3 separate regions of the Homo sapiens genome follow, and all the other regions are reported to be linked to region 1. Evidence: microRNA targets listed by miRTarBase, many of them from high-throughput screens and not tested one by one. Region 1 holds a microRNA gene; each other region holds the end of a gene's coding sequence.

Region 1 (3,260 bases):
GCATCTTAAACCCACCACCTTTTCCCCATTCTCCAGCTGCTTCCCCTTCAATCTTTCCCATCCCAGTGAACGGCACCTTTCAACAGGAGGTTCTGTTTCCGACAGAAATCCAGGTGTCAGCCTTGACCGCTACCATCCTTCCCCATCTACATCCACAAAGCAACACCAACTCAGCCTCCAAAGGGCTTTCAAGGTCATCCCACCTCTCAGCCTCTCTTCTCTTCCTTATGCTGCTGCAGTAGTGCCCCTCATTGGACCCCCTCTCCCACACTTTCTCTCCTGCAGGTCTTGTCCACATATATCCTGGAGCCCTATCTTAAAGCCCAGCTCTGCTCCTGCCACTCACTTATCACCATTCCAAGCCTCCCCGGCTTGGCACTGCTCTTAGGATAATGGCCAGTCTTCTAGCAGGCACTCCAGCCTCATCCCTCATCCTGTCCCCCTATCCATATCCCATCCTCCTAACTAACAGAACCTCTCGATTTCCTGGGTGGATCACACGTTCTCTCAACCCCAGCATTTCCCCTGCTGTTCTGTCGGCCTGAAGCCCCTCCCTCCCTCATCTTATGTTTTGTTAACTCCTCTTTGTCCTTTGGGTCTCAGATCAAACACCTCTTCCATGTAGAGGCTTCTCTGACCCTAGACCAGGCTGTGTCCCGGCTGCTCCTCCTAGCATCACACTCACGCCACTTCATCATCATCACTCGCTCTGTGTCTCTCACCCATCAGGACATCTGCTCCGCTCACTACCGTATCCCCAGCACCTAGCACAGGCAAGCGCTCATCCATATTTGTTGGAAGAATTAATGATGGAACAGATTACTTAAAGATCACAAACGGAGCACTGGTTAAGCCTCCCAGGGATCCGAAGAGAAAAGGGCAGGAGGCCCCAGCTGGAAGATCCAGATTGGCTGGTAGATCACAGCTTGGCCAATGTGTGGCAACTGCTGCCAAGCCCCCATCTCCATCGCCCTGGGGGAATTTGGGGCCGGCTTAATATGTGTTGAAAAACCACTTCCGAGGGTGTGCTCATCCCTTGAGAGAAAAGCCACGTCGACGCCTTCTAGCTTCTAGCTTCTAGCTGTATCTTCTGGTGCACTGGAAACGGCCCAACCCTTGGCTGCATTCTCCATCCCAACACACACACACACACACACACACACACACACACACAGCCTTCCATTCCTGCTTCTGCGGGGGCTCATTAAGTCAGACCACACTGCAGGCTTTGCTGTGTCTGACTGCCACCTCTCGGATTGGGCTGTCAGCACAAACCCTCACTCATAAAGAAAAAGGCAGCTTCCTGTCCATCCTGAGGTGTCTGTGTGAGTGTGTACCAGAGCCCAGGGGAAGGAACAGTGAGAGAGAAGGGAGAATGGGCGTTTGCGGGAGTGGAGAGGTAGAAGAGGGAAGGGAAGAGGAGAGAAAAGAAGATATTAATTTTGAGCTATCAAGCGGGAGGTGGGAGAGAGGCTTTTCTTAGTGAAGCAGTAGGGCACAGTCACTAAAAAGGAAGATTTTGGGGAGTCAGACACCTCAAGCTGGAAATCAGCCTTGCCACTTACCAGCTGAGTGGCTTTGGGCAAGACACTCCCTTCTCTGAACCGCAGTTCTCAGATGTTGCTCTGAGGGTTAAGTGGATCGTGTGTGATGTGCCTGGCTCGGTTCCTGGCTCACTGGGTGAGCTCTGTTAAGTGGCAGCTGTTGTTGCTGCCACTGCCACTGTTGTCCTCACTCCTGTTGGGGAACATGCCCCACTCCTGTGTCCCACCTCACCCCCCTCACTCACCCACTCCCCGGAGTGTGGGGACTTGTCATGGCTCCAATCACTGCATCTGTGGCTAGAGTGGCTTTTAAAGGCTCAGACTCGAACCACTGATCCAGCACCTGGACAGCACAACAGCAGAGAGAAGGGCTTAGGAGCCTGGATGGGAGGAGGGCCCTCTCACTGCCTGGTCGGGCCTGAGGCTGGGGAACCACTCACCTTGGTAATGGGAGCTGTGAGGACCTCATAATATCGGGGAAGCTGGGCTCCCAGGATGCGGCCTACAAGAGAAGATCCACAAAACAGAAGTTGAAACAGGTGACAGGGAAACCCTCCGACCTGGCCTGGGGGATAAAAGCATGGAGGATGCTGAGACTTCCTGCCAGGAGGTGGTATAGCACAGCCAATGCAGGGACAGATCCAGCTTGAGTCCTGGCCACACCTCTCACTAGCTGCAGTGCCTGGGACACATTTTTAACATCTCTGAACCTGCTTCTTTACCTGTAAAATGGGAATCCTATTTTACACCCCAAGGGCTACGGTGAGGATTAAATGAGCTAGGTAAAGCATTTGCAAGTTCATGGGTACTTAATACATTTAAGCAGTTAGCATTATTTTTGGAAAATTTTAAACTTGTACCTTATTCCCTTATTTCGAACTCTGGAAGGCCCATATCCTGGGAGAAGGCTGGCATGGCTGATCCATTCCTATGACCCTGATTCAGACCATTTCAGAAAGAAACTAGGCTTTAAGGCCTTCAGGGTAGAAATCATGGTCTCTAGCCTTACAGCCCCTGGGCCTAGCTTAGTGTCTGACACATAGTAGTTGCTCAATAAATGTTTTTTGCCTGTTTTTCACACAGAGCTCCTTGGACTGGTTATCTGAGAGAGAGGCAGTGTCTACTTTTTGCATTTGTAATAGATTCCACTGGCTCCATACTCTTTGCAATGTATAAGTCTGCAGTGCCTCTCAACCCACCACAACTTGGTTAACCTGCCTGGCTCCTTGGCTCTGGGCTCATCCATGTGATTTGGTCAGCCAGTGGAATGTTTGCCGATGTGACACAAACCCAGAACTGAAACAGGCCTGTACATTGGGGCATGCCCTCTGTGCTTGTGCCACTGATGTGAAAAGTCCACACCCAGGTCAGCATGTGCTTCTACAAGGAGGACGAGAGGTACCTGGAGCAGAGCTGCCTCCACTGAGCTGCTGCAGACACAAACACATGCCTGAGACCAAACCAGATCAGCTGAGCCAGCTGGAATCAGCTGAACCACGAAGACATGTGGGAAACAAATGATTTTTTTTCTAGGATATAGAGGTTAAACTGGTCTGTATACCCTCAAGGAGGGTAGAAAATAATAGCACACTTAATGAGCCTTCCATTCGCATACTCATGGCAGACATTACTAATTGATCACAGAACTTCTCCTTGCTGAGCCCAAATCTAGCATTCTTCCTGTATGGGGGCAGCTCTTCAAATCTCTTGGCCCCT
Region 2 (3,260 bases), not on the chromosome of region 1:
GAGAAGTCAGCCAGGAATGTGGAGCTGCCACCTACGGCTAGAAGCAGAGCCACCCTCCCTGGCCATGTGGGCATCAGCCCAGAAATGTTGGCCTGAGTCAGTCAGCTGAGCTAAGGACACACAATTTCAAGAAGGGTCTCCTGCATTGCTGCCTGAAGTGTTATAGTCTACTCATGTAGAGACCACATTCTGCACAGAAAGACGTCTTCAGTAATTGCTTTATTCAATGTACCTTCTTTAGCGTTTCACTAAAAATGTAATTAATTTCCTTCAGTTTATACTATGTCATAGTATTTATTTTTAAGCCCTTGTAAAGTATAAACTTTCAACCTGTGAGACGGCAAAGATCTCTACCAATTGAAAGCTAGAAATCACTGTGATCACAATTGATTTAGAAAATTAAATGCACTAGAGACCAGGGGTGTGCACAGAGACACAGGCCCCCCACCGAGGCTTGCATGCTAACAGAGACTGTTGGCTTTTCTTTCCCAGTCATGTCCCGTCTGCAGGTCGCGTGTGGAGCATGTCCAGCACGTCTATCTGCCAACGCACACCAGTCTTCTCAATCTGACTGTAATCTAATCTGTTGTGCTTTTGTTGGACTTGGCATGTTTCCATGAACTGCACTATTATAAACTATTAAAATGATAGATTGTGGAGAAAGTAATTATTCCAACACCCATCTGCCATGCGATGTTAAAAAAAAAAAAAAGGAAGAAAAATAACACAGCTACTCCTCACTGCAAAAACATATCCATGCGTAGAATCAACAACTCCAGTCATGGGACCAGGAGGAGCTCTGGGACGCAGACACATTCCTTGGATGTTGATTTTTTTTATGATCTAGTAAAGGAATAGGTAAAGTCTTTGATGTCAGTGAAGTGGCAACATAGCCAAAAAGTTGGGTACCTTTTAGGAAATGATGTTGTAAGTCTCCTTAATGTATCCTGAGGTAAGTTTCCTACTGGCAGCAGATTTTGTAAGAATTACTTTTAAGAATTTCATTCTTTTTGTATGGTCATGGAGCTCCAACCATTTTTAATAGGAAAGTCTTTTGTAAATTGTTGTCGTTTTAATGTCATTTCTGTCTTTATAACTTGATCAAGAATGATTGGAAGGCAAACAGGTTTACAAATCAATTCTGTGACTTTTAAAAAGTTGACAATGTTGTCAGATTTAAACCAGTGTGGCTAGTAAAAAGCAGCTCACTCAATGTGGGTGGCTCCCTATTCCTTTACGCTCCCCCTATCCCTACCCCACAAGCCTTTCGATTATAAAATACTACCAATCTTGTTATAAGATTACTGTGGAGTAGTCAAGTACTCCCCGGGCCTTCTGAGCTGGTGGAATATTTTATTTCAGACTGAAAACAGAGAGCACTCTCCTTGGGAAGGGAAAGCGGAGCTTGCTGAGTGAGAGATGGAGCCTCATGGTGTACAACTGAGGGTAGTTAACTCATCACTTCTCCCAAGCACTCGATCCCAGCTTCACCCACTGGTGTTGCTTTGCTTGAACTGTTCAAGCCTTTTATAGCCTTACCATAAGTATTTAGATATGGTGTCCTTTTCTGTTTTTGGGGGGGGAGTTTTGTTGTGTTTTTTTAAAGTAAGTGCTTAAGTATTAACTTTGGGTTGTCCCCTCTGTATGTTTCGAAGGGGTTTTGGTTCTTTTTGCTTCTGTTTTCTTAAACATGTTTTCCACTCCCACTTGGGCATTTTGGAAGCTGGTCAGCTAGCAGGTTTTCTGGGATGTCGGGAGACCTAGATGACCTTATCGGGTGCAATACTAGCTAAGGTAAAGCTAGAAACCTACACTGTCACTTTACTGAGATTTCTGAGTATACTTTTCATATTGCCTTAATGTAGCAGTAATGTGTTTATGCATTTGTTTCTTTGCACAGACATTTTGTCAAATATTAAAACTCTACTTTTTTATGGCACATATTAGCATATAAGCCTTTATTCCAAGAGGTATTTATTTTTTCACTTGTAAAAAAATAATGTTTCCACGTAAAGAACTCTGTTATATCCTAGAGGACTCTGTCTTTTATATTCGGGATAATAAAGACTTTAAAGCAAACATGGATGTGTGTATTGTCATTTAAGCCAGTTTTATTTCATTTCAAAGAAATAAGCAAGGGGTAACATCACAGTTAGTATCTACTTTCCTCCTACCGGGAATTTAATTTTTTTTTTTTAATAATTTCGGTGCTCTACAAATTCAGAGAAACTTCTTTAGTAACAAACTATAGAAATGATCCTTGAGAGTATAGTCTTTTTTTTTTTTTTTCAAGAAAACTTGAAAATATTTGTGGTATTGGTTCTAATGGAGATCACTTCACCAGGTTATTCTCTTATTTATGTCTTTGGGTGGTTAGATTGGTATGTAGGGGAAAATGGGGTCATGAACATAAGCAGATGAAAAGAAAAAATCAGGACAAGTACTGGAAGCTATTGGAGAAGGAAGGAAGTGGCAAAGCTGGAAGTTAACAATTAACAACCCAGCTGGTGCTGCTGGTGTGTGGCCTGCTCAAGACAGGGGAGTGGCCTGGGTCATAGCAGTAAGGGCCTCGGGCTACAGAAGCTCGGGCTGTATTCCTGCAGGACTGCTGGTCTACTCCTGCTAGGTCCTAACTGCTCTATGCTTGCCAGTGTGTGCTCATCTGTGTTTCTCCAGAAATACATTTTGGAATAGAGAATATTGTACATAATATATATAAGTGATAATTATCTGTAGCAATTGGAAGAAGTAAATTTATTTTTTTTAATTAGAGGCAGGGGTATTTGTTTTTACTGTACCTATAACCTAAGTCAATCTTCCATCAATTTCTAGGAATTAACTAATTTGTTCATTCAACACATTTATTGAAACCTACTAAGTTATTGAGCCCTGGAAATTTAGCAGTCATCAAGACATAAATGATTCTGGATGCCTGTATCATGTACTTAGCCTGTAACGTGTACTTTTGTCTCTGCGCGGAAGTTAGATAATATGCAGAATCCACGAATACTAGCATCAGAGGGAGTCTTGGGCATACCAGTATCAAAATGCTAACCAAGTTGATGGAGGGATGGATGGATGACAGGCTGACAGATAAGATTACATATTATTCACCCCACTAGACCATATGGACGCCTTAAGCTCAGTGACTAACATGAAAACCACTATATTACATGGTGGCATCATAGAATTAGAAGGGAAGAACAGTGGAGGCACAGGAGGCAGGGATTCATTGTGCTTAGGAGCCAAGGATAAAGGTG
Region 3 (3,260 bases), not on the chromosome of region 1:
AGAATGGTGAGAAAGCAGAAGTGGTGTGTGAATGCAGGGAGTGATGTAAGAGGGCAAGCAGAAAGGGTCCCGAGAGGTGGAGAGAGAAATTCTGCTTCCTCTAATGTACTGCATTCCTCTTTCCCTCTCCTTCCCCATCTCATCTTTGTGCTCCTGTGCACTGTACGTATGCAAATCTCTTAAGGTCCATCTTAATGCAACGCTGTTAGAACTTGAGACTTCAGTTTACTCTTTTTTTTCCTCTAATTTTGGCCCACTCTGGCAGGTGAAATTGAGACAGAAGCACATTCCAAAGAAGAAAAAAAAGCACTGAGGAAGTCAGATGTGACTTTGGGTGAGTACCTTCCCTCTATGTTATTCCCTCATCTTTAAGTGAGAGTGATAATCACCGCCTGGCCTATTTCACATACTTTTGTACAGATCAAATAAAATAGTTTATGTGAAAGTATAAATGTTGAAGTGTCATTGAGAGGTAAGAAACTATTATATGGTTGTGGCCGGGCGCGGTGGCTCACTCCTGTAATCCCAGCACTTTGGGAGGCCGAGGAGGATCACGAGGTCAGGAGATTGAGACCATCCTGGCTAACATGGTGAAACCCCGTCTACTAAAAATACAAAAAAAAAAAAAAAATAGCCAAGCGTGGTGGCGGGCGCCTGTAGTCCCAGCTAGTCGGGAGGCTGAGGCAGGAGAATGTCGTGAACCCAGGAGGCGGAGCTTGCAGTGAGCCGAGATGGTGCCACTGCACTCCAGCCTGGGCGACAGAGTGAGACTCCGTCTCAAAAAAAAAAAAAAAAAAAAGAGACGAAACTATTATGTGGTTGTGCTGCCCTGCCCTCAGTATGTTGTGTAATAAATATAATAGGGGTATGAATAATTGTGCAATGAATACATCCTGATGGTAAAAAATTTAATGTACACACAAAAGGGGGTAGGCAGATAGGAGGGAAACAATATTGTAACATCCCACTGTACTATTGGTTCTCAACCCTACCTCCACTTTAGGATTGTCAGGAGAGCTTTTAAAATAAAAACATCCTAAATGCAATTCTATATCCTGGATTGGACCCTGAAGCAGACAAAGCACATTAGTGGAAAAATTCATGAAAACGGAATAATGTCTGTAGTTAATGGTAGTGTAACTATCCTGATTTCTTAGTTTTGACAAATGGCCCATGGTTATGTAAGACGTTAACATTGGTGTAAACTGGGCGAAAGGTATATAGTAACTTTTGTACTATCATGACAACTTTTCTGTAATTCTAAAATTATTCCTCCAAAAACTATTATTTGAAGCATAAAACAATTAAAAAATAAATATACCTATGCCTGTACATCAGCTAGATGGGGGAATCTGAATCCCTGGGGGAGAAGTCTGGACATATATGTATTTTTGAAACCTTCCCAGGTGAGTCTAATGTACCAGAAGGGTTGAAAGAACCACTGCTCTCTCATGTTCATTATACCATGAATGCCTGAGGGACTGTGACCCTGTCTTGTTCTTTGATATAGCTAGTACCTAGCACAGTGTCTATATGGAAAGCTTGTGCAAGTGTGTTCTTGCTGAATGAAACTTTATTTGCAAAAATATCCTTAGTCCTCTGTAATAACAGAAGGAAAAGTGAAAACAAAAAATACCAGGGTAGATTTTCAGACATCTTCCCATCCAGAACAGCTTCTATTCCTGCCCCGGTCTCTTGTCGTTTTCAGTTAATCTTTACCATTATCACCATATTTACCATATTCCTAAAATAGTGAAATTGCCATTCCATTGTTCAAAAATCTGACTTCATTCCCCATTTTTAACAAGTGATATATTTCTTGGTTAGGTAAGCAAAATATTCTATGCTCTAGTAATATGAGCTTTTCAGCATGCAAGCCTACTACTATTTCATATGGACTCTACATTAACCATAGTTTGCCTGCAGTTCTCTTGAACATGTTTTGAACTCACCCTTCTCTTTGTCACATACAGTAATGCTGCTATCCTCATCTATGCAAATACTTTCCGTCTTTCAAGGCTTCATGCCTGTGTAATTTTTTCAGGTCACTCCAGCAAAAAGTGAGCATTCTCTGTTTGTATCTACCATTCAAATGGCACCAGCCCTTACTATTTTCTTTTGTGATTATTTGTTTTCTGTTTTATTTCCCCATGAAACCAAATTAACCCCACCGTGGGGTGTTAGATAGGTCTTCTAACCTCCGCAATTCTTAACATGATGGTATCCACACAGTTAAGCATGTAATAATGATTTAATGTACATTGTGCACAAATACAATATTTAAAAAATAAAAATAGAAAATCAAAATTCAAATACAAAAGTAAACTACATTCATCACTCCAAAATATCTTTTAAGGAGAATTGTTAAAACTGACCAAAAGAGTCAACTAAAGCCTGAATAAAATTTTGATGCTACTGTTACATTAATAATTGAACAGCATTTACAAGAAAACTATATACTCCACAAAATGTATGTGTTCAGTCTTAGTCACTTATCTGCTCTTAAGACGTAAATAAATGTTCTTAGGGGGGAAAACCAATTATCCAGTCCTCCCCGCTTCCTTATTTGTCTGTTCCCACCACTATCCTCTCCCCGACCTATACATACATACACACACACACACACACACACACACACACATTCTAGCATGATATTGTCTATGTGGTAGAGCCTTAAAAAATGTTATTTCTTTCAGATATGGTCTACAAATAGAAAAAATAATATTAATGAGCATTGTCAAAAGTTTTACAATATTTTGAGAAAATCACGCATAAACTATTAAGCTGTATGTTCCATTGGACCACAACTTTATGGTTGAGCATTGTTAAAACAAAACATAACTATAGACATCATTTTCTGGATGACTCTCATTCAGAATTGCTGGTATTCCTGGCTCTTCTTTGGGTTTTTCTTTCATTTCTGTAAAATCAAATAAAATAAAAAATAGATTCAATAAATTGTATTGGGACAATTGACTCTCCATTTGGAGGAAGAAAAACTGCTTTACAACATACACAACAACAAACCGTAGATGGGGTAAATTTTTAAATACCATAAAGTTATAGAAATAATAGTGTTTTTAGTAATCTTAGGATGCTAAGCAGAACACAGAGACCAGAAACCATAAAGGAAAAGACTAGCAAGTTCGAATACCTAAAAAGTAAAATTATATATGGTGAAAACCACTATAAACAAAGTTAAACCAAATCAAAGACAACTGGAAAAATATTTGCAACATATACATAGTAAAAACTATTAT

Evidence for each region. The annotated mature microRNA hsa-miR-1287-3p reads CUCUAGCCACAGAUGCAGUGAU and lies in region 1 at 1,826-1,847, opposite strand. An mRNA with a match to its seed (bases 2 to 7 or 8) in the 3' UTR can be bound and repressed. Matches are read on the target gene's strand: a 7mer-m8 pairs with bases 2 to 8, a 7mer-A1 pairs with bases 2 to 7 and ends in A, and an 8mer does both.
Region 2: the mRNA of MYLIP is a reported target of hsa-miR-1287-3p. Seed matches in the 3' UTR shown: 7mer-A1 at 1,800-1,806.
Region 3: the mRNA of HEMGN is a reported target of hsa-miR-1287-3p. Seed matches in the 3' UTR shown: 7mer-A1 at 2,642-2,648.

What each region holds. Positions count from the first base shown.
Region 1 is chr10:98,393,407-98,396,666 of GRCh38, forward strand. It overlaps MIR1287 (microRNA 1287), which reads right to left and starts at 1,901; the gene lies at 1,812-1,901. PYROXD2 (pyridine nucleotide-disulphide oxidoreductase domain 2) reads right to left here. Exons shown (of 16, transcript NM_032709.3): 7 at 1,985-2,046; 8 at 1,790-1,887.
Region 2 is chr6:16,146,170-16,149,429 of GRCh38, forward strand. MYLIP (myosin regulatory light chain interacting protein) reads left to right here. Exons shown (of 7, transcript NM_013262.4): 7 at 493-2,079. The coding sequence ends at 582. It also overlaps the pseudogene LOC124901514. Among named protein-coding and RNA genes, the nearest start is that of MIR4639, 6.2 kb to the left of the region's middle.
Region 3 is chr9:97,924,559-97,927,818 of GRCh38, forward strand. It overlaps HEMGN (hemogen), which reads right to left. Exons shown (of 4, transcript NM_197978.3): 4 at 2,233-2,920. The coding sequence ends at 2,826. Among named protein-coding and RNA genes, the nearest start is that of TRMO, 3.7 kb to the left of the region's middle.